Regions from separate parts of the Homo sapiens genome. Here region 1 is linked to region 2. Evidence: fine-mapped expression QTL. A gene starts in region 2. The other region holds a variant in brackets. All regions are shown on one strand. Distances are between the middles of the regions. Region 1 overlaps FBP1 (fructose-bisphosphatase 1). Region 2 holds the start of PCAT7 (prostate cancer associated transcript 7).

Evidence for each region.
Region 1: its variant is fine-mapped to the expression of PCAT7 in pancreas (GTEx, PIP 0.93).

The regions. Positions count from the first base shown.
Region 1 is chr9:94,597,849-94,610,393 of GRCh38, forward strand. FBP1 (fructose-bisphosphatase 1) reads right to left here. Exons shown (of 7, transcript NM_000507.4): 4 at 12,073-12,213; 5 at 8,967-9,104; 6 at 7,609-7,728; 7 at 5,285-5,724. The coding sequence ends at 5,533. Among named protein-coding and RNA genes, the nearest start is that of FBP2, 10 kb to the left of the region's middle. RefSeq lists enhancers at 10,197-10,698, 12,127-12,545. The variant T/C (reference allele first, on the strand shown) is at 5,590.
Region 2 is chr9:94,548,422-94,560,966 of GRCh38, forward strand. PCAT7 (prostate cancer associated transcript 7) reads left to right here and starts at 6,662. Exons shown (of 3, transcript NR_121567.3): 1 at 6,662-6,924; 2 at 10,548-10,731. It overlaps FBP2 (fructose-bisphosphatase 2), which reads right to left. Exons shown (of 7, transcript NM_003837.4): 7 at 10,299-10,711. The coding sequence ends at 10,517. It overlaps LOC124902218 (a long non-coding RNA gene), which reads right to left and starts at 6,468. Exons shown (of 2, transcript XR_007061674.1): 1 at 6,138-6,468; 2 at 2,116-4,933. RefSeq lists enhancers at 77-246, 4,874-5,536, 6,201-6,863, 10,189-10,689.

The DNA of each region.
Region 1 (12,545 bases), 49 kb after region 2:
TGACATCACTACAGAAATAGAGTGGCTGGATCTTCCAAGTTCTGGTCCAGTAAATGACTGCAGGGTGAAGACGGAGGCCTGGTTGATTAGTTTTCAGGTTTCATTTTGAAGCTAATGTTATCTGATTAAGAAGGTCTCCGGCTGGGCACGGTGGCTCACACCTGTAATCCCAGCACTTTGGGAGGCCGAAGCAGGCAGATCACGAGGTCAGGAGATCAAGACCATCCTGGCTAACACGCATCTCTACTAAAAACACAGAAAAAAATTAGCCGGGCATGGTGGCGGGCACCTGTAGTCCCAGCTACTCGGGAGGCTGAGGCAGGAGAATGGCGTGAACCCAGGAGGCAGAGCTCGCAGTGAGCTGAGATTGTGCCACTGCACTCCAGCCTGGGCGACAGAGCAAGACTCTGTCTCAAAACAAAAAAAAAGAAGGTTTCCCCTGTGATGGCGCAAAACAATGCTGAAAATGTGTATTCACACAAAAACCCACACACAGATGTTTATAGCAGTTCTAGTTAAACTAGAAACTGCAAACACCCAAAATCTCCTTAACAGTGAATGGGTAAACACACTGGGAGAGCCATACAACGGAATACTATTTTTTTTGAGGCGGAGTCTCGCTCTGTTGCCCAGGCTGGGGTGCAGTGGCATGACCTCGGCCTCCCGGGTTCACGCCATTCTCCTGCCTCAGCCTCCTGAGTAGCTGGGACAACAGGCACCTGCCACCACGCCCGGCTAATTTTGTTTTTGTATTTTTAGTAGAGACGGGGTTTCACCGTATTAGCCAGGATGGTCTCAATCTCCTGACCTCGTGATCCGCCCGCCTCGGCCTCCCAAAGTGCTGGGATTAAAGGCATGAGCCACTGCGCCCGGCCACAATGGAATACTATTAACAACACAAACACTAGTGTCACGTGTGGCACTTAGGCGAGTCTCAGAGGCATTGTGCTGAGTGACAGCAGTGGTCTCCAGCGAGTATCTACAGTCTCATTCCATTTGTAGGGGACTCTCCAGAATGCAAACCTGTGGGGACAGATAACTCTCATGGCTGCCAGGGGTAGGGGTGTGGGGAGGGGACAGGGCAATGGGGGTTTGCATGATAGAACAGTTCTAGACCCCAATTATAGTCATAATCCCAATTTCAAATTTTGCAAACTGAAATTCTGTACCCATTAAACAAGAACTCCCCATTCCCCCTCCCAACACCTAGTCCCTGGCACCCGCCATTCTGCTGTCTCTATGAATTTGGCTACACTGGGTCCCTCATAGACCATACAGTATCTGTCCTGCTGCGACTGGCTTATTTCACTCAGCACAATGTCCTCACCATCCCCGCATGCTGTGGCATGGGTCAGAGTTCCCTCCTCTCTGAGGCTCAACAGCATTCCCTGGTATGGACACGCCACAGTCTGTTCACCCATTCATCCTCTATGGCCGCTTGGGTTGCCTCCACCTCTGGGCTAGTGTGAGTAATGCTGCCATGAGCACAGCGTGCAAACATCTGTTCAAGGCCCTGCTTTTGATTCTCTCGGGGATGTGCCCAGAGGTGGACCTGCAGGATCATATGGTAATTGTCTGTCTAATTTCTGGAGGAACTGCTGCACCATTTTCCACAGCGGCTGCACCATTTCACACTCCCCAGCAGTGAGCAAGAGTCCCAGGGTCTCCACCTTATTGCCAGCACTTGTTATTTTCTGTTTGTTTGTTTTTACAGTAACCATCCCAATGGGTGTGAGGTGGTATCTCACTGTGGCTTAGAGTAGTTGCATCTTCCTAATGATTAGTGATGTTGAGCAGGTGCTTATTAGCCACTCCTGTAATTATTTTTATTATGCTTTTTGTTTGTTTTGTTTTTTGAGACAGAGTCTCGCTGTGTTGCCCAGACTGGAGTGCCGTGGCACGATCTCGGCTCACTGCAACCTCCATCTTCCAGGTTCAAGTGATTCTCCCATCTCAGCTCACGAGTAGCTGGGACTACAGGCACGCACCACCATGCCTGGCTACCTTTTGTATTTTTAGTAGAGATGGGGTTTCATGATATTGGGCAGGCTGGTCTCAAACTCCTGACCTCAGGTGATAAGCCTGTCTTGGCCTCCCAAAGTGCTGGGATTATAGGCGTGAGCCACTGCGCTCGGCTTATTATGTTTTATTAACATATCTGTTCACAACAGATTGGAAGTGAAACAAACAAGCCAGTGTTATGAGCAGATCTCTGGAGAGGCGCCGGTTGTCCGGCACTGTGGGTGTCAAGGATGAGCAGAAGCCTGGATAATTTGGGGATCAGGAGGGAGGGGGATTGGCCAGTGCCATGTATAAGTCAGCTCCCCCCGTAAAGGGATCCAAGGGAGGGCCTGCTATTTCTGCCACCCTCCAGCCCAGGCTGGCACCTGTGCAGCTGTCATGCCCCTTTCAGCTACATTTAAATGTTGGAAGTTCGAGTTACCTACATGATCTGAAATTGCAGCTGGTGACCTTTCAGCAAATGCCAAAGTTCTTTCAGGGCACACAACAGCGTGGACACACGGGGCATCTGGAAGGCCCAGAGGAAGGGGGGGGCAGCGTCCAGCTCACGCTTTTTTCAGCGCCACTGATGCATTGGTGATCACAGAGCTATTTATGGGCTTGCTGTGCTTGGTGAAAGGCCCTCACAGGCCTGGGCGGAAGTAGTAAGGACAAACAGAGTCTCTGAACAGTAAGGCAGTCTTAGGGCAGTTCATAGGGCGGGGCCCCCACCTGAAGTCTAGGATCTGGACTGTGACTCTACAGTACTAGCTGAGAGCATATTCTCTGTTAGCAAAACTCTGTTAGAATGCCTTCCATGCCCCGTCTCCAGTGATCTCAACAAACGCTCTTTCATGAAACCTCAGCATTTCTGCTTCCAGCACGGCAGACCCTTTAGGGTATCTGCTCAGCCCACGATCCCCATCTAAGAGAGAGGCGTGCCCTGCCCATAAAAAGAAAACCCAAGGCCACGTTTGTCTTATATGACCCGGGTCTATGGCTGCAGCTAACTGGACACAAGCTAAGACGTCAGGTTTTTTTCTCCGGGGAACTTGGTGTGAGACATGGAGACACAGTGGATTGGCTGACAATGCCAGGACGGACTAAGGGTGTGTCCTCGGGGTTAGGAAAGCAGTGGGTGCTAGGTTTCATGAGAGTCCCCTGAAGCTTTCCAACAAATTGCCTTTCTGCTTTAGCAGAATAAATGGGTTTCTGTTACCTACGATGAAAATGGCCTTGACTACAATAGATATTACAATTAACATTTTGCAAATGAAGAAAGGGAGACTCAGAGAGGTTAAAAATATTGCCAAGCTTGGTCTAGTTTAGTCAGGATAGCGTATGTTATCGTGCAGCAACAAATAAACCTGAAATCCCCACGGCTTAGCACAGCAAAGGTTTGTCTCTCCTTCTGGTCCCAGGCTGACATCGACATGGCGGTGGCTTAGGCCTCCAGGCTCCTGCCATGTCATGAACCTGTACAAAAATGCATGGCTTCAGAGGAGGACCCATCCTAATGTAGGTAATCTAGGCTCATCTCATCTTAATCCTTACTTTAATTAGATCTGCAAAGACCCTCATTCTTTTTTCTTTTTTTTTTTTTTTTTTTGAGACGAGTCTCGCTCTGTCGCCCAGGCTGCAGTGCAGTGGTGTGATCTCGGCTCACTGCAAGCTCTGCCTCCCGGGTTCATGCCATTCTCCTGCCTCAGCCTCCTGAGTAGCTGGGACTACAGGCGCCCGCCACCACGCCCAACTATTTTTTGTATTTTTAGTAGAGACGGGGTTTCACTGTGTTAGCCAGGATGGTCTTGATCTCCTGACCTTGTGATCCGCCCGCCCGCCTTGGCCTCCCAAAGTGCTGGGATTACAGGTGTGAGCCACTGCACCCTGATATATATATGGAAAAGGCTCCCAGACCATATTTCTCTCCCTTCATGCTTTGAGAACCAGATGCCAGCTGAGTTACAAGAAGTTTAAAACTCAAGAGGTGCTTTGTGCGTCAGGGGACTTTCCCAGAGGGCAGCCCCAGCTGGAGTGGAGAAATATTGGCTTTGGGTCTGTCTGGTCAGTGGGCAGAAGCAGATCCAATGCTCAAGATCAATTTCCTGCTGGGAAAATGTGAAATGAATGGGGAGTGTTTGGAGGGGAAGAAGCAGGATTCACATACACACATGTTTTCAGTTCCCAAGTGGAATCATATGGATAGATCCATTTTATATCTAGAGCTCAAGGAGGGCCACAGGTGTTACTTAGTGCCTGACAGAGCTTGCCACGATCTTGGACTCTGGTCCAGTAAGACCAGGGTTAGCGGAGGGAGAAACTGTTTCTATAGAGAGTTTAGTGAGAAGCCTGCTTGCTTGCAACAAATTGCATTTCCTTAAACCCTGTTCTTGTAGTGAATCCTTTTTCTTATGGTAACTAGACTGTAGGAACTATTAGCCTTTGTGAGTTAAGTGCCGTGCTTTTATAGAAAAATCACCACTGGGTGGCTGGGCGCAGTGGCTCACACCTGTAATCCCAGCACTTTGGGAGGCTGAGGCAGGCAGATCATGAGGTCAGGAGTTTGAGACCAGCCTGGCCAATATGGTGAAACCCCGTCTCTACTAAAAATACAAAAATTAGCTGGGTGTGGTGATGGGTGCCTGTTATCCCAGCTACTCGGGAGGCTGAGGCAGGAGAATCGCTTGAACCCAGGAGGCAGAGGTTGCAGTGAGCCGAGATTGCGCCACTGCACTCCAGCCTGGGAGACAGAGTAAGACTCCGCGTCAAAAAAAAAAAAAAAAAAAAAGAAAGAAAGAAAGAAAGAAAAAGAAAAATCACCACTGGGTAAACAGTAAACTTTCACTTGGGATTCAGATGGTTACATCCATGTTTGGGAGGCCAGAGGGTCACATGCAGGTACCACCACTAAGCCATTAGCTCCCCCATTTCTAGGAGGGCGTGAGTCGCCATGTTCAGGCTGCATGGTTCCTCAGCTGCAATCCTGAACAAGGCTGGGGAATGATGGGCCAGGCCTGAACGGGACGACATGAAGGAGAAGCCGTATGCTGGCTCACAGTGGCCAGGCTGCCTGCATTCAGGTCCCCACTCTGCCACTCATTGGCTGGAAGCCTTGAGCCAATTACTTCACCTCTCCTCGTCCATTTTGTCATCTATAAAATGGATTATTCAGAGTATCTGATTCATTGGGTTATTGTGAAGATTAAATGAGTTATCTAATGTTATATGCATCAGCAGTTATTATTGTCATCATCATTATTATTTGACACAAAGCAAGGGAGACTTTTTTTTAAGGAGGAATAAGTTTATTTCTCCTCCATCCACTCAAAATATATCTTAACACCAGTGGCATTATGGAGACAGCATTTGGTTAGGGAGTGCCAAGCATTCTACAGCATTTGATGGTGGAAATAGTCATGCTTTTTATTTCTGCTCTCTAGGAATGTAAGGTGCACAGCAGGTCAGGGTACTGCTGTGTGAGACAAAAGGTCCAGGTAGAGGCAATTCTCCGGATGCAGGCAGGGCAGGTGCTCACTGGGCAGAGTGCTTCTCATACACCTTCAGGAACTCGAGCACGTCGTCGGGGGA[T/C]CCCAAGATCACCGGCGCCCTCTGGTGAATGTCTGTGGGAATGACGTCTAACACGGCCTCCTTCCCAGTGGTGGCCATTCCCCCAGCCTTCTCCATGACGTAGGCCATGGGGTTGCATTCGTACAGCAGTCTCAGCTGGAAAACAAGACCGGGTAGCGGCCTCCTTGTATCAGAAGGTATTGCGTAAAAAAGAGACTTTTCTGCAGCAAAACATGCAGAGCTGGTGGGAGTTTCCAAGGGAACGAATACTGTATTTTTCCTTCCTGTGAGGCTGTAAAAGTTTCCTCCCACCCCAGGTTGCATCTGAGACAAAACAGTTAACCATTTGGTTAAATTCAACCATTCATCAAGCCAGTGCCAGCAATAGATTACCTGATGCAAATGTGAGACAGACCACCTGCATACTGGACAGAATGACATTTTGGCAGAAGCGATCATTGCCTTCTCTTTATACCATGGAAACTGGACTTAATGAGTGATTCTGTGTGTGTTGGATGGAGCTTCGCCTATTCTAAAAGCAATAAAAAAAATCCATGGTGGTGTCTGGCTACAGACATCTGGAAAGCAGACCGGCTCCTCCAAACAGTGTGATATTGTTTGCAACTCTGTGTGCATTCCTTTTACGATTCTCCGAAGGCTTTTGGGTTGGAATTCAGTGTATTATACGTCTTGGCATTCACCTTTAAATATTAACTTTTTTATTGTATGCCTTTTCATGCAGTCTGCCTACTGAGCGACAGCTTTCTGCAGGTGTTTCCTGAGTCTATTTCCACATAGGTGTCATGGCTAGTTTTGAAAAACCAAAAAAAAAAAGAAGGAGCCTCAATATTTGTGTTCAGGAACAATTTCGGGGGACTTTAGAGAAAAGTGCTGGAAAGCAGGCTAACCACACAGGTTGATATGCCCGAGGCAGCTACAGCTGGATGATGGTTTCAGTAAATAGAAATGCCTTCATTCTGGATGCCACATGCTGCAAACAGACCCAAATACATCCAAACACATAGGTTTTGTGTTTAAGGGAACTGTTGTTCCTGTTCTCCTCTTGCATTAAAAAAAAAAAAGGCAGCCACGCGTGGTGGCTCATGCCTGTAATCCCAGCACTTTGGGAGGCTGTGGCGGGTGGATCACTTGAGGTCAGAAGTTCAGGACCAGCCTGGTCAACAAGGTGAAACCCCGTCTCTACTAAAAATATAAAAATTAGTCGGGCGTGGTGGCGGGCACCTGTAATCCCAGCTACTCAGAATGCTGAGGCAGGAGAATCACTTGAACCCAGGAGGCAGAGGCTGCAGTGAGCTGAGATCGCGCCACTGCACTCCAGCCTGGGCGACGAGTAAGACTCTGCCTAAAAAGCCATCTGTCCACTGGGAAAACATAAGAAGGACACAATACTTGGGAAGGAAGCACACTGTCACCCTGGCAGAAGGAAAGCAGGGCAGCTCTGAGCGAGCGTGAGGGAGCACAGCCACCCTGCAGCCTGCTGGGAACACCATGGGCTTGGACTAGTGAGTCGGTGGTGACGGCTCACCTGAAAGCTCTAGGTTTCCCCAGAGATTCTTTCCTCCCCTAAAAGGTATCGTTTTCCAAGTAGTGGATGTTGACTCACTAGTTACCTCTGTTTTACACCTTTTGAAAGCAATCAAAGAAGACTTCTACTGAGGATACACATTTGATTCGCTGCCTTGGAAGTGAGGCTGGGTTGTTTCATTTCACTTTATGAATGGAATTCATTTTGCCCCAGCCAAGCCCTGTATCCACTGGAAGCCCTAAGGACTTTCAGTCCTCGTCCTGACCGTTCATTCTCTTTTGCCATAGCACTGGAAGGGCTCTCAAGAGACTATTTTTATCTTTAGTTGATATCGTCTGGCTTTACCTTTAATCCACAAAAGAATATGCTACAGACACACGTAGCAACCTAGCATGGAGCGTAATAGCTAGCAAAACCTTTCTTCTTCCTAAACTAAATCGCGTGGGCTGCAAGTGAAATCTGCTCCTCACTCCCTCTCCAGGGGACACCCTTACCTTTCCATTGGGGCTCTTCTTGTTAGCGGGGTACAGAAATATCCCTCCGTAGACCAGAGTGCGATGAACATCAGCCACCATGGAGCCCACATACCGGGCCCCATAAGGAGCTGAATTATCCTGCAAGTTAAGACCAGCAAGAATTAGGATTGCAGAAAATAAGAAAGAGAGTTTTCTTGGTGTCTCCTAAGTTTCTTTGATTCCACATCCATTCACCGAGCACCTACAAGGTATGTATTTGGGGCTGTGCTAAAAAATGTGATGAGAATCCTGTTCCCAATAAATAGAAAATGGAAAAATGGAGACAGCCTCTCATCATCTCACAATAGGTCAGATTGCCCACAGAAGCCCCAACGAGGGTATGGTTGATTCTGGTTATGGGGCTGAGGCAGGCATTACAGAAACTGTACCATTTAGTAACACCTTAAAGGCTGAGAAAGTTTGTTACCAAGCTAAGGAACCGGGCAGGGGTGGGAGGCAGTGTGTAATTTACAGGAGAGGAAACTGCACAAGTGTCTGCTTAGCAATGTGGAGAGGGATATGGTCCTGGAGGAGGAGCCTGTGGGACTCGGGTGTGCGTGTGCGGAGCTTGGGGGCAGGAGGGGAATCCAGGATAAGGTGAAAGGAGAGATGAGTAAGCTGGAGAGAAAGCCTGGGGCAGATCTGAGGCCTCCTTGAACGTCCTGCAAACATTTGAGCTTCATCTCTAGCAAACAGCAGCCATCGATGGCTTTTAAACAAAGAAAGGACAAAATCAGATATTCCATATAGAGCAAGCTCCACACAGCCATTTCTTCTCTTCATATTCACTAGCTTGTAACCTCTTTAGGGAGATGTCACGATGGGCACTCTCGGTCTCGAGATAACTGATAGATGCACCTCAGGCAGGCCTAGCAAGGGGCAGACACCACTTGACGGGCATTTGAGTGGGGGAACCACATTTCATCCCATCTGGGACCATGGACCCCAGAAGGGAAGATGTTTTACTGCCATGAATTCATTCATTTGTTTAACTTTATTATCCTAATTTTCTTCTGCCAAGAGAAAGTAGCAAAGGCTGACATGGAGACTGATTTTTGATGTCTCAGGGTGAGAATTCCAGTCTCCAGTACTGAGGTGAGAACTTCATCGTGGGCTCAGTGTAGACGGAAGCCCAATCCACTCCATCCCTGCTTCCTTTCACCTTTAGGGTAAGTCATCAACCAATAGATTTCCACACTGCTCAGGAGCCCCACATGAGGCCCAAGGCCCTCGATCCCAAGGATCCCTTTCATCTCCGGGGGATGCCCCTGCCTCCAGAACGGCCTCTGGTGCCAGATGCCCAGAACCTGCACCACCCTCCCCGGGCCCTCACTTACTGGGGGGAACTTCTTCCTCTGGATGTACTCAGTGACGGCAGGGTCAAAGTCCCTGGCGTAGCCCTCGTTAAGGCTGTAGATTTTACCTTTCTTTTTTATCTTCACATCCTTGTCCACCAAAATGAACTCCCCGATGGCCTTTTTAGACAAGGAAGGAAAGGTGGAGAGATGACGAGCGCACTGGGTCCCCCAGGCCTGGATGAGGCGAGCGATGGGCTGGGCTACGCTGGGCTGGGGTCGCGGCGCACGGGCACCACTCATCTTGGGGCCCCGAGACACCTGCCAGGCTCTCTGGGAACTGTGAATGGGGTGAGGGGAAGCAAGACAATGCTGCAGAAGCCATCAGGGTGATAACAGACACTTTCGACTTTGTTTGCATATGATTTCAGTCAAACAAGAAAGAAACCACACAAAAATAGGGAGAGCAGACTTGTGAAACAACTGCTAAGCCTGCAAGAGAGTAAGAACCGTGTGTCCAAAGCAATATAAGATGTGTATGCCTTTACCAAACAGAAAAAAGGGTTGGTTCAGGCGGGAGGTGGGCTCTCAGGAGAGACGGGCCACCGCAGGATCAGTCCCTGAGTTACACCCAAGTGCTCAGCGCTGTTCTCGGCTTTACATTTCTACCTTGATGGGAGTTCTCCTTTCTGGGCGTTCTTATAGAACAAAGTAGAACCCTGAGTTTTGAGTCTGGCGTACGTAACTTCCGATGGCCTTTGCTCGCTGGCGTGTGAAGTTTTTCTCAGACTGCCTCTTCCCACATAGCCCAGGGTTAAGCTTATGCCTTTAAGCTTTAGGCTCTTCAAAGGAGATTTGAATTTGGGGGAAAAGTGTTGCAGAAGTCCTATTGCTCCGGATTGAGGATTGTTATGGGTTCCTGTGTGTTTTTGGCAAGAGGGTGATCGAGGCTCTGCCCATTTAGGAGGGGCTTGACGTTGACACAAGAGTTGAAAAGAAAAAAGGCCCACCGACACCTCTCTACCTAGCCATTTATTCCACAGCAGAAATTGGTTCCTACCCATATGGAATACGTTGAAACCAGACAGACAGGGAGAAAGGGAGGGGAGAATTCACAGTGGCCATTGAAAGGTGTCACTGGAAGTGATTCTTCTTTCTTACTTTTATGCCTTTTTTAATATTTTCAAAATTTTTGACCACAAGTATACCGGAATATTCTTTTATCGTTGGTAGAAAAATAAATAAATAAATGTCTTTCAAAAAACTATATAGAAAAGAAAGCCATCTCACAACAGTTGCTGGGTGCAGAGCGCAGGGCCCAGCCAGACTGTCCATGGTGCAAAGGAGGAAAGTCTGTGTACAGAGACAAAACATAAAAGCTCCCAGAAAGTTGAAGCCGCTGGAAACCCGAGTACAGCTGTAGCAGTGTTTTCAGCAGAAACCGTCAGCCTGGCTTTGCAGCAAGCGCAAACAAAGAGGAAGCACTTAGCACCTCCCTGGCGGGAGGCTCAGCCCCGTCAGGCACCGCAGACAGAAGGGCTGGAATCAAATCCCAGCAGCCCTGCATTGCGCTTCCAAACATTCAGGACTGAGGAGGGCAAAAGACTATCAAACACACAGAAGCTTCCCTACAGGGATGCTCCCCTGCAATCTGGAAACAAGAAGGGATTGAATGTTTTCTCTGCTTCCACCAACTCAAAGGTAACAAGAGAAGGCACCAGAAGAATGGGAAGCAGTCAGGGCCCGGCAAATCACAGTCAGCAAACATCAGTGGTGCCCGAAATTCCATCCTGGGCTCAGGTGGAACTTTGCTCTGGTTCTGCCACTAACTCCCCCACCCCACCCCTACCCAGGTCACCACATTTGGCGACTTTAACTAGTGCTATTACCCTACCCTTGTTTATTTGTTAAGTGCCCATGCTTCCAAGGAGGTGAAAGTCCACTTCCCTGACAGCCTGGGACAAAGGCAGCCTGTGTTGAGTTAGCCTTCCTGCCACACACAGACCCGGCCTCACCTCCAGCAGCCTATCTCGCACAGAAGGTTCCTGTTCCTTGTCTGTTCCTGGGGTTCAGTTTGCCAGCAAAAAGCACTTTACACATAGTTCACTAATGTCATAGGAGGACATCTCTAAAAGTTAAAAAAGTTGGCCAGGCATGGTGGCTCATGCCTGTAATCCCAGCACTTTGGGAGGCTGAGGCGGGCAGATCACCTGAGGTTAGGAGTTCGCGACCAGCCTGACCAACATGGCGAAACCCCGTCTCTACTAAAAATACAAGTGTGGTGGCAGGCGCCTGTAGTCCCAGCTACTCAGGAGCTGAGGCAGGAGAATCGCTCGAACCCAGGAGGCAGAACTTGCAGTGAGCCGAGATCACGCCACTGCACTCCAGCCTGGGAGACAGGGCAAGACTACATCTCAGAAAAAAAAAAAAAAAAGAAAGAAAGACTGCACCAGTTAACTGAAGGTTTGTGTAAATGTACACGAATAAATGTGGGAGCTATTTTTGAAGAAGCAATGTCGTCCACTGCTTCAGTTGGCACACCCATTCGTCTCAGGAAAACAGCCTTTTGGTGACTAAAGTAGAAAAGCTAGAAATGGATGGATACAGTTTATGGCAAACAGAATATCTACAGCCCCATCAGGTCCATAAATGCATTTTAGTTGGCCAACATAGTGTTGCACACATGCAGAAACATTATGTTTTTTACAATCCAGTGTTTCTTGAACCATTAATAGAAGCCTTGGCAAGGCGGGCCCCCTCCTCCCAATTGTAATTGCTGGAACTCTTCAGTTCACCCCAGTTCCACCCTTGCCCCCCGGCCTTCCTTCCCCAGCACACTTCATCATCCCTATGGCCTGCCTGGACCTGGCATTTGGGTCATTTGAGTAACAGCTGCTCTGAGGAATTCACATTGGAACAAAGACCCCCTCTTGTGCCAGTCTGAGATGGCATTTCTCACCTCCATAGTCTGCTCGGGAGGCATACACTCTCTCTTGGTCTCCTGCCCCCTTTCCACCACACATCATCATCTCTGTCCCTCCATGGGCATCACCTCCCACCTCCACATACCCCTGCCAATCCCCCACACATATCATTCATTTGCTCACAGACACCAGCCAAGCCCCCAGCCTCCTGTGAGGTCTCTCACCGGGTCCAGCATGAAGCAGTTGACCCCACAGTCCATGGCAAGGACCAGCATGGTGGCACTGCCATACAGTGCGTAGCCGGCTGCCACCAGGTTCCGGCCTGGTTGCAGAGCATCCTTCTCAGAAGGCTCATCAGTTGATTTCTAGAGCAAGAAAGAAATCAAAGAATGTTTTTGTTTTGTTTTGTGATTCTTTTTTACAGTTCAACCATTAACAGGAGGCATTCTCAAGGTGCTCTTCTAATGAAATAGGGCATCTTCCCAGAGGGGCCTTCCCCTACACATCAGCAATATCCTGATTAGATTATCACGGCAGCCTTCCCACCAGAACCCAGATTTCCTGCATCTGGATTCCTCTTTCCAATTAGGGCCCTCCTCCAATTTTTCTAATGTGATATTCCCTCATCTCTCCACTATCAGTTCCAAAAAAGAGCATGCCTTCTTGCCAGTTCCCACTAATTTAATCTTATTACGGG
Region 2 (12,545 bases):
ACAGTTACGTGTGACTCACTACTTTCACTTATCATGTTTTCAATGTTCATCCTTTTCAGAGTATGTATTAATATCTTTCTTTTTCATTGTCAATATTTTATGGACAGGCCACATTTCATTAATGATGGACATTTCTGTTGTTTCCTACTTTTTGTTGCTATAAATACCTGTATGCTACTTTTTGTGCAGGCACCTTGTTTTAATTTCTTTTTGAGGTATACATAGGAGTGAATTTACTGAGTCACGTGGTAATTCTATATTTAACCTTTTGAAGAACCGTTTCATTTTTCTGCATGTGGCTTGCCAATTATCCCAGGACCATATGTTGAATAGGGTATCCTTTCCCCACTTTGTTTTGTTTGCTTTATCAAAGATCAGGTAGTCTGATGCCTCCAGGTTTGTTCTTTTTGCTCAAGATTGCTTTGGTTTTTCAGCATCTTTTGCGGTTCCATACAGATTTTAGGACTAATTTTTCTATTTCTGTGAGGAATGGCATTGTAATTTGATAGTGGTTGCATTTAATCTGTAGATTGCTTTGGGTAGCATTGAAATTTTGACAATATTAATTTTTTCAGTTCATAAATATAGGATGTTTTTCTGTTTATGTCACTTTCAATTTCTTTCATCCATGTGCTATAATTTTCAGTATACACATCTTTCACATCCTTCATAAAAATTACCCCCTAGTCTTTTACTTATATATTTGTTTTGATACTATTATAAATGGAATTACTTTATTATTTTTCAGGTAGCAGTTTGTTACTGGTGTATAGAAACAAGAATTATATTTTTATGTTAAATTTTGTAACTCTCAACTTTATTGAATGTGTTTATAAGCTTTAACTTTTTTTTTGGTGGAGTCCAAGATTTTCTCTATGTTAAGATTACACTGTCAGAAAACAGAGACAATCTTACCTCTTCCTTTCCTATTTGGATGCCTTTCATTTTTTTGCCTTGTATAATTACTCTGGCTAGTTGATTATATGTAATGTTTTCCGCATTTGTAACCTGACCTCAAATCCATCTGTTGTAATACACTGATTGTTACTTTTCAAACTTGAAAACCTGGACTTTTTCACTACTCTCCCTTTCTCTTGGTCTGCTTCTTATTAAAAAAAAAAAACCTATCAATGTAAACCAGGACAGATCATTATTTTTCTATAAAACAATTTCAAAGGCATTAAAAAATTTTTAATCTAACACTTTTAAACTTTGTATGTCAATGTTTAAACTGTGGTCTCGCAAAACAAATCCATTAACTTTAGTGGCAGAAATTACGCTAATCCCTACACTATCACTGGGTCTAGCCAAGAGTTGACCAAAGATGCTATTATTAGATATGCTTATTTATTACCTTGTTCTCACAGTTCTAGTGTAAGTCTTGAAAATCTAGAAAAAATTTGTAAAGATTATAGTTGCACAAACTCCCTCTCTCATGAGTCACAGTTAATCCAGAATATTACTTCTAAGTTATCATAAAGCCAACAAGTATGATATACTGTTTAAAAATAATCCTAATTTTATAAATATATTCTATAAATTAAACATGTAATCGATACTATTTATTGAATATCTCATAATTATATTTATTTACATAGAAACAAAGGAATCAAAAGCATCTCTTATATAACATTTAAATGACTAAAAATACTTGATAGCATTGCTACATAAATGCTATGTAAAAGACAACAGTAAAAATGTCATTCCCTACATTTGCTAAATATATTGAGACACATTATTTTTTAAATATATCACTAATGGTTGGTTCAAGTGGGCAAAAATGATTCTAAGTATTTAATTGTGGAAAAATGTAGTACAGGGGATAGTATTCATGTGATGGAAGGGTTTTAAATGGAGTCCAGGGATTAGCAGCAGCAGGACGTTTTAATGACCAACAGGTGCAGAGTCTAGGATACAAGACAGAACTGTAGATAAGTCTGAATCTTTTCAGCATATCTAGGAGACATGGCTAACTCCACCTGTTCCCAGGCCTTACCTAGAAATTTCACGGCTCCAAGCCAGGTAAACACAACAATTTTCCAAAGTCAAAGAATCAATTTATGACATTAAAGCACTTCTAAAATTTAACCTCTGACTTAAATTAGACAAAATGGATAGATTTTGAAGATATTTTTATTCTACCAATGATTTTAACACCGTCTTTATTTTCCAAAGATTAGTGAAGTCATGTGAAATAAAAGGCATTAGAGCCTCTGTTTTTCTGACAAAATATTTAAGAGCTTTCATTTTCTGTTAAGTCGAGTACTTAGAGCTCCTTTATATATACATCACATACACAACACTTCTGGACAGGACACGATCTAGCAGTTGTAAGTTTTTCTTTCACATTTTATGAACCCTAACACAACTTCCACAGACCATCTAGGACATGATTTAACTTTGTGACTTGTCCTGTATTTCCCTCTGTTGTGATTAGTCATTCTACTTTAGGACAAGAATTTGCCATACAAGATCCTCTCTCACATAACATTTCTTTCCTTCATAATATTTCTTACCATAAATACATCTTCATATCCACAACTTTCTTTAGATCTCTTCCCTCTACTAATTTCTGATGCCCACTCAAACCAAAAAGGTCAGATAATGCAAGGCAAAACAGGAGAGCCTTAGATTTTGAGAGGGACCTGTCTGCTTAAAGTTCTTGGGGTTCCATGAGGAAAACAGAGGTTTCTCCTAAAATGGGTTTGTGGCACCTTCTGTTTTTCCTTCAGCAGTCTCAGGCTATCAGAAATTACCTTAGATTCTCTCATGTGGGCATCAAGAGTGGCAACAAGAAAGATTAGGGAAATAATCCAGACAACTGAGCAAAAAAAGAACTTACTACTGTCCCTACTGTAAAGGTGGATAAACTGAGGCACCATGCGGTTTAAAAATTCATGTTCACATAGAGTCAGGCTCCACAGCTCACTCTCTTAACCATCCTGTAATTTTGCCGACTCTATGCCCAGTCACGGATGCACCTGTATGGTAGCTCATGGCCCCCTTAGAGCTTAGAATCTGGGTTTCATTCCTGCTCTACAGCTATATAATTTAACAATTTTCCTCTGAATTTGTTGGATTCTAATCCTACATATCTCAAATTTTATTATTACTGAATCTTAAAGGAGGCTGTGATGTCCTTAGTCTTTAGAAATATTAAACCTATAAATAAAGGGCTATATGAGGTTAAACGTATTCAAATTTCTATATGGTTTAAAACATTGAGGAAATGTATTGACAAACAAACTTAAGAAACTGCAACCAATCTACTCTGGACAAAAATTTAGATACTATCTCTTCAAAATAAGCTATCTAGTGGTATTTACACACATTCTTCCATATATCAACAGTATTTCACATGCTCATAACCTTAAAAATAACTGAAAGTGTCAGAATTATAGGCCTTACACATTTCTGTGGGCTTGAAAAATGATACAATATAGATTGTCTTTAAGGCAGCTAAGAAAATGCATAAACTTCTAGAGTAATCAGTTTAAAAAAAAAAAGAGTTCATACCAAAGGTAGTAATACTACGATTAAAAGAGAGCTCAACACTGCAGGTTCTTAAAGGCAAAAGTTAATAAAGCCTTGTTTTTGGTAGTGAATCTCTGCCTTGCAAAATTATACACATGATTCTCCCCCCTTCATTTGCCTCTTGCAAAAATGTGGTGATGAACCAGGTTTGCTCATGCAGATGATGATACTCTTCAAAATGGTTGCAGAGAAATAAAATGAAGGGAATATGGTTCACTTAATAATCTCATAAATTAGAACTTATTACCCCAGTGACTCTTACATAGCTCCAGACAAATATTTGAGAGAGATGAAATGGCCTTTTGCTACCAATATCTTATGTGATGCTTCACTTTTTGGTTCCTTGGATAACTACTTACAACTCATTAGCCCATTTATGCCAGAGGTTGCAATTTTTTGAATTTTTGCATGAGTGAAAAATCAGACCTTGTCAATGACCTTGAGCAGTATAAGTAACTCCCACATGCTTAGCGTTCCAATAATGGAACACTAGGCCTAAGTGGGTTAACACAATAATGAAATCATAGCTATTCAACTAATTATACGACTTATTTGTTTCCTCATCTCTAAAACATAGTAAGGGACCAGTTATTTTAAAAATACATCACAGTGACAAGTTTATTTTTCACTCAGTTTGGGCTTGTTGTTTAAGGTCATTGCTTGGCATAAAGAAAACAAAAAGAGGAGAAACAAGAATAGAAACATCAAATAGAAGCAGCAGCAGCAAAAGAAAATGAAGAGGAACAAGAAGAAGAAAATACAGACTGGAAGAAAGGAAAAAGAACAGGTGCGTGAATTAGAAGGCCTATTATACCTTTTATCCTTTCCTCGATTCATGAAATTTGAGTTAAGTCCAAGAGTATCACAACAAAAAACAAGCGAAAAGATACACAAAAAGTCACCCCCTGAATTTTGTTAAGAATTAGACAATGCTGCCACTCATGCCTGGCTCAGGCGCCAGCAGGAGGAGGGCACCCTCCAGAGATTGCAGGACAAGGAGGAAGACTCCTCCTTACCCTACATGCACCTCCACCACTGCCACTGAGGCCCGCATTATAGCACCTTAAGGTTCGTCCCCACCCCAGGACAGGATGGGCAAGTGAGCGCTCCTACTCCCCTTCCCAGCCCCCAGACTTGCCGCTGCTACCAACGCTAGCGCCGATGCCAGTACAACCGCTGTTGCCCTCAATGCACCAGCCCACCCTACAAGGCTCCTATCACTTGGCCCCCACGGGTGCCCTCCTACCACTCTGGTCAAGCTGCAGTCTCTGTTGCTGCCACCAACCTCATGAGGCAAGCTGCAGAGCCACGCCATCTACAGGCTCCAGCATACCACAGGTGACTCCTCCTCCTCCTCCAGCCTGGCTGGGAGCAGTTGCGCAGGCAAAGCCAGAGAAACCTAGAACAGGATGCAGGGAGTGGAAGTGTTAGAGCTTCACCTTGTCACGCTGGCCACTGGGCGGCAGGGACCATTTCATTAAAGGCACTCACACCCACCTTCCAAAGTCCAGCCTCTCTTTCTGGCAAAAGCTGGCCAGGAACTGGGGCCTGGGCTGGGTGTGAGTGCCTTCACTGAAACCGGCTCCTGGCCAAGTCCAGCTGGCCAGGAATTGCTGGGCCCATCGGCACTGCGCTCTTCGGGGAGCCCGCGTAGGAGAAACTCAGACCCAGCCAGCCCTCTCCACCCAAGTGCTGGTTCCCATTCCTCACGCCTCCACCCACAGTGCCCTGTCCCCCTCCCTCCCCCGTGGTGCCCTCTATTCCCTGCCCGGTAGTCCCAGATGGTCTCCACAACACAGAGCGTGCGTGAGGGCGCGGGCCAGGGAACCACAGTGGGTGTGAGAGCCCTGCGGTGCTCAAGATTGCATGAGCACGAAGAGATCACCCTCTAGAGTCTGGAGTCCGGGAAGAGAAGAACTCCATCCTTCCATGGAGGCCACCAGAAAGAGGAAGGAGGCCACAGCTGTCGCTGCCGCTGCTGCCTCTGCAGCCCACCAACCCCACTGGCAGTATAGCCCCCGATAGCACCCCTAACCTGCCCCCTGTAACCCTGGGATAGCACACCCAACAGCTGCAGGCAATGTAACCAATACCCCCCCAAACCATCCCAACTCCTCGGCCGCAGGCAGTGTTAGCACCCGATAGTGCCCACCTGACGCAGCCACGGGTATTGCTGCACTAGACAGCGCCCCAAACCCGCCCCACCCTCACCCCGCCATGGGCAGTGCAGCTCCTGATAGCGCACCCCCAGTCACAGGCAGTGCAGCACCGGACCACGCCCTTAAACCACCCCCCACTGCCAGCATTGTAGCCCCAGATAACTCCACCCAACCCGCCCCTGCCACGGACAGTGCAGCAGAAGACAACGCCCCTAAGCCATCCACCGCCACTGGCAGTACACGTTAGTGTACACAACCTGCCTCTCCCGACCACCCCTGCCACCTCGGGCAGTGTAGCCCCCCATTCCACCACCAGCAATGCAACCCCAGAGAGTGCCCCCAAACAGTCCAATGCCACAGGCAGTGTAGCCTTTGGCAGTGAGCCCCTATAGTACACCCAACCCTTACCCCCAGAAGAGGGCAGTGCAGCCCTGGATAACTCACCTACCCTACCACATTTCTACCACTGTGGCCGAGCTGCGGTCTCTGATTTCACCACCAACCGCAGCGAGGCGAGCCGCGGAGGCGCAAGCTCCGGCTCCAGCCTCCAGCACGCGGCGGTGCCTCTTCTTTCTGTCTTCCAGCCCGGCAGGAGAAGCTCTCGCTGCTAGCCTCCCTCCTACCGCTCCGTCACCACCACCACCAACAGGGAGGGAGTGCCCCAGGCTCCAGGCTCCAAGCTCCAGGCTCCAGGGGGCGAAAAGTGACGGAGCCTTCCAGTTCTTTAAGCCGGGTACGTAGTAGCTCCCCACACCCACACATAAGTGCCAGAAATGACGCGCCGCTGCCTCAGCATGCTTTATATACTGAGGTTAGGAGACCCTGGACTACATGTTCTGATTGGATGAGAGAAAAACCTCTAGGCCTACTCTGATTGGACTTTATTTTCATGCTGTGATTGGTTGTCTTAAGACTTGCTCTCATCCAATCAGAACATGCAGTCTAGGAACCGGCATGCGCATAACCTCAGGATATAAATAATGCTGAAGCAGAGTTACGTTTTTTTTGTTGTTGTTTTTTTTGTTTTTGTTTTTTTAGGTTTCCGTGTGTTTCTATTGAGCTGCTCAGTGCCCGGCTTAGAAGACCAGGAAAAGGAGTCACAGGTCGTATGCTGGAGGCTTGAGCCGCGGCACCGTGGCGCGGCTCGCCTCGCTGCGGTTGGTGGTGGCGGTGGACATTGCAGCGCGGCTGGAGGGGTAGGAAGAAGAAGATAGTTTTGGGATAGATAGAGGTGGGTAAAGAGTGTGGTTAGTGCCAAAGGGAAAAAAGGATAGCGAGGAGGAGAAGGCGTTGCAAAAAGACGATGGGGAAAAGATGGTGGGGAAAAAAGTTTTTGGGTAGATGGAGGTGGAAAAACAGGGTGCAGAGAGGGAGGGAAGGAAGGTTTTGCAGAAAGACGGTGGGTAGAAAGTTTATGGGTGGATGAAGGGGGAAAAGAAGGTGGCAATTGGGAAGAGGAAAGAGTGGTGAGGGGGGGAAAATGGGCGAGCAGTAGGGAGAGAAGGTTTTGTGAAAAGATGGTGGGGAGAGAAGTTTTTGGGTAGAGGAGCAAAAGAAGATAGCAAGTGGGAGAAGGAAAAAGAGGGTAACCAGCGGGAGGAAGACAAGGTTTTGCGAAAAAACAGTGGCAGAAAAGAAAGATGGTGGAGAAAAGATGGTAGGTAAAAAGTGTTTGGGTAGATGGAGGAGGGAAAGAGGGTGACAAGGAGGAGGAGAAAAGAGGGTGGCGAGAGGGAGCAGGGAAAGAAGTTTGGGGAAAAGACGGGAAAATAGTTTGGGGTAGATGGAAGGCAAAAAGGAGGGTGGCAAGCAGTATAGGGGAGAGAAGAGAACGAGTGGGAAGCAGGGGCAGACTTTGTGAAAAGATGGGGAAATTTTGGGGGGTAGATGGGGAAAAGAGGGAGGTGAGCAGGAGTGGGGAAAAGGCTTTGAGAAAAGATGGTGGGGAAATGTTTTTGGGTAGATGGAGAAGGGAAGGAGAGTGGCAAGGAGGAGCCGGGGGAAAGACGATGAGGAAAACAGTTTTTGGGTAGATAAAGGGGGAAAAGAGGGTGGTGAGCAGCAGTAGGGAAAAGGCTTTGGGAAAAGACGGGGGAAAATGTTTTTGCTTATATGAAGGAGCAAAAGGGCGTGATGACAGCGGGAGGGGGAAAAAGAGGGTGGCCAGGGAGAAGGGGGAAAATACGGTGGGAAAAAAAATACGGTGGGAGAAAGTGTTTGGGTAGATGGATGGGGAAAAGCGTGGTGAGCGGGAGAGTAGAGAAGGCTTTGCGAAATGACGGTAGGGAGAAAACGGTGAAAAAGTTTGGGGTAGATGGAGGAAGAGAAAGGGTGGTGAGAGGGAGAGGGCCAAATGCGGTCAGGAAAAGAAGGTGGGGAAATGGTGGGGGACAAAGGTTTTGGGTAGATTTTTAAAAATAAGATTATTTGTATTTTCACTTTTGAGTAGTTTGAATTCTTTAGATGTTTTGTGTATTAACCTCTTGCCTGATGCATAGTTTGCAAATACTTTCTTCCATTCTCTGGGTTCTGTCTTCATTATACTGATTGCTTCCTCTGCTTTGGAAAAGGCTTTAAGTTTAACGTAATTACATCTTTGCTTTTGTTGCTTGTGCTGTTGATGTCTATTTGAAAATTCCTTGTCCTAACCAATTTCATGAAGCATTTTATCCTATGTTTTCTTCTCTGGTAGTTTCATAGTTTCAGGTCCTGCATTTAAATCTTTATTTTGAGTAGATTTTTGTATATGGTAAGGTAATGGCCTAGATGTATTCTTGTACATGTGGGTGTTGGGTTTTCCTGGTACAGTTTATTGAAGAGATTGTCCTTCCCGAATGTGTGTTCTTGGGGCCTTTGTTAAAAATGAGTTGACCGTAAACGCGTGAATTTATTTCTGATTTCTCTATTCTGTTTCACTTGTCTATGTCTGTCTGTCTCATTCGTTCATCTCTCTGTCTCTCCCCTGCCCCTTTTATTGATAGTACCATACTGTTTTGATAGTACCATGCTTACCATAGATTTGTAGTATATTTTGAAATCAGGTAGTGTGATGCCTCCAGCTTTTCTTTTTATTCCAGATTCTTTTGTCTATCTGAGGTATTTTGAACTTCCATGTTAATTTTAAGATTCTTTTTCTATTTAAATGAAGAATGTCTTGTAGTTGAACACAGATTGCATTGATTCTGTAGATCGCATTGGGTGATATAGATATTTTAACATTCTTCTAGTGCATGGACATGGGATATCTTTCCATTTACTTGTGTCTGCTTTAATATCTTTCATCTATGTTTTATGAAGTTTTCATTTTGGGAAAAGAAGAAAATCTTTGTTCCTTTTTGAGAAGGTGAAAATTTTTTGGTTGTGTAATAAGATTTTGCTGTGTCTGCTAAAGTTGCCAAGCCATGCTAGACTGAGGAACGATGTTGCGTACAGAATGACACTCAAGTTGAAATGTGTCTGTGGGCTGTATGCCCCACCCTGCCCAAGCTAAAGTGGGAAAGGAGAGCCTTGCTTCCTCCAGGGCCTTGCCTGGTCCCACCCGACACTGCCTTCCCCTAACCTAATGAATTACTGTAATAGATTTTTCCGTGTTGAATCATTCTTGAATTTCTAGGTTAAGCCTGACTTTCTCCTGATGCACCTTTGCTTTAAATACTTCTGGATTTGATTTGATTTGTCAATCTTTCATGAATGTCTTTCTTAGCCTCCAGGTCCATAGATATTCAGAGCAATTCTTCCTAAAACAAGATGAGATTTCAGATGCATAAGCCAACCCCTCCCCAGTCTTAACATAATTTGGACAAGTGACGAGTCATTTAACCAGTGTACACCAGTTAGTCCCTAGAATAGATTAAAACATTTCCCCAAAAACTGAAAATGCAAGGTTAAGAGGTTTAGAAAAGTAGTTAATTTCTAAATATTGACTCTGTTTCTGGCTTTAACAATAAGTGACCCCATTTTCCATTCAAACTGTGATTGGTCATCCAAATTATAGACTCTTAAGATAGGCTCAATCAGAAATTTCAGAATTTAATTGCCATGAGATTTCTAACTCAAGTTTATCCAAAATAAGACACAAATACTCTTCTAAGATATTAAGTTGGAAATTTACATGTGTTTGAGGGAGGTAATCACTACAGGATAAGACACTAGGTTCAAATTTCAAGCCAATCAAGACAATTTTTATTTTTTATTTTTTTAGATGGAATCTCACTCTGTCACCCAAGCTGGAGTGCAATGGCGCGATCTCGGCTCACTGCAAGCTCTGCCTCCCGGGTTCACGCCATTCTCCTGCCTCAGCCTCCCGAGTAGCTGGGACTACAGGCGCCCGCCACCACGCCCGGCTAATTTTTGTATTTTTAGTAGAGATGGGGTTTCACCGTGTTAGCCAGGATGGTCTCGATCTCCTGACCCCGTGATCCGCTGGCCTCGGCCTCCCAAAGTGCTGGGATTACAGGCATGAGCCACCGCACCCAGCTGACAAATTCTTAACTAATCTATGTACTCTTTGCCCACAAGCATGCAGCCGCCAATTATGTGGGTTGACAGACGGAATTATAACCATATTTGCCACTGTTTCTGACAGAAGACAAGCCAAAGTCGCACTTTCCACATGTGGGTTTTTATTTCTAGTCCTTCACATTGACCATAGAATCGCCTGTGGCTTCCAAACCTGTCGTAAGCAGTTTGTTGTTGCTCTTCTGTATGTGATTAAGTGGATTTACCTTTTGTATACTCATAGCTACCATCTCTGTTTATCGTTCATTTAGGGTCCTTAGACAAGGTGCAAGACAAACAGAAGAGGGCATGTGGGGTCAAACTCGCTAGCTGCCTGCCTGATTTTTCTGCACACAGGTGAGATATTCCTGCACATCCTCTGGTGACCCCAGAATGAGGGGGACTCGCTGGTGAATTGCCTCGGGCTTCACGTCCAGTACAGGCTGGGTCCCCGTGGTCGCCAAGCCTCCTGCCTGCTCAATGATGTAGGCCACGGGATTGCATTCATACAGGAGCCGGAGCTGTGGAGGAACAGAGGCAGGTGAGTAAACTCTGCAAGTGGCCAAATGTCCCGAGCCATGCCCCTAAAGCTGGGGGAGGAGTTTGTACTGCGGTGCTTCCATCTGGCTAGCATGAGCGCACCATGCACCTTGCAAGAGTGGGCCCGAGCTTTAGAGCCTACAGCAGGCCAGATGCATCAGATGGCACTCATCCAGAAGCCTTGGGGGCCCCTCTGGCCAGGTGACTGAGCCATGTATCTACCCATCTTGTGATCCTTGTGCTTATGAGAGACCTGCCTCTTGACTTGGAAATATGAGATCTAGGCATCTATTTCTTGGTTCAACAAGAAGCAAACTGATGCTGCAGGCCTTGGTGGAAGCCTTTATATGTGAGACCTCAAGGCTGGTAAAGAGTCAAGCTTGGATGGGACAGTAAGGTCACCTTGACCATGCCGGCTTGTCTCTCTGGGGACAGCCACAGTGGCTGGGATTGTGTGGAGGAACTCCACATCTTAAGCTTTGACTTGTCTAACTAGTTTGCCGGTGTTTCAATGGTCTTGTCTTTTGACCCTTAGACTAAGTGAAATCCCATCGTTTGCACTCCCATAGCATCCTGTACTTCCCCTCTGGTACCACTCATCACACTGAGGCCTCTTTAATGCCTGGCTTCCTCTCTAGGCTGCTGTCCATCCTAGCTGGTCACTGTACTATCTGTATTCTCAGTAGTGCCGACACAGAGAAAGTGTTGGCTCCGGCCTGTAATCCCAGGATTTTGGGAGGCCGAGGCAAAAGGATCGCTTGAGTCCAGGCATTTGAGACCCCATTTGAGATAGTGAGACCCCATCTCTACAAAAAATTTAAAAATTAACCAGGTGTGGTAGCGCACACCTGTGATCCCAGCTATTCAGGAAGCTGAAGTGGGAGGATCAACTGAGCCCCGGAGTTCAAGGCTGCGGTGAGCTGTGATCATGCTACTGCCCTCCAGTCTAGGTGACAGAGCAAGAGCCTGTCTCAAAAACGAAGAAAGTGTCCAAGCAAGGCCACTGTTTCCTGCACGAGGGGTCCCAGCCGAGGGCAGAAACTGGGTTGAAATCAGCCTGTGCCCTGCTTGCCAGTCTCTGCACAAGATCCAGGGCTGCTGTTCAGAGGAAGGAAGGCCTTCTCTAACCCTCCTGCAGGCACATGAGAACTGGCAGGAGGCTGCCTGTGTCCTGTGAGTACGCAGTGAATTGAAATGAATGGGGTTGGATTGAATGGACTTTTTAGGTCTATTTCTGTGATGATGTCATGACGCCCCCAGCCTGACTCACAACACACACCCCCATCACCTTAGATTCAGGGTGTCGTTCTGGCCGAGGCCCTGCTGCTGTGCATGACTCAGTATCATCTTCTTCTTTCTCCCCATCAGTGCAACCTGTGTAACTTCCCAAAAGTTCATTCTCCATTATCACCTTACGAAATGGTTGACCCAGCTATGTGCAGCCTTTCCTTACCATTCTTTTCTTCCAGTCCGTTTTGGTGATATGTTTAAACTACTTTGAGAAAGAGTCATATATTATGGTAATTTTTTTCTATTTTTCTATTATATATTTATATGTTATTATATATTATATAATATATATTTACATATAATATGTTATATATTTATATAATGTTATTATATATTTTTTCTATTGTATATATTATATATATTAAGGAGAGGAACATGATGCCTTTGGTCTAGGCTGGAGATCCAGGCATTCGAGAGAAAGTAGGTGAAGACTCCATGGGGGTATTTACTGCCATTTTGGTCAGTGTAAGGTGCCCTCACCCTAGACCTCTGGCTCTTAAAGTAGTGGGTGTCCAGAAGGGTGTA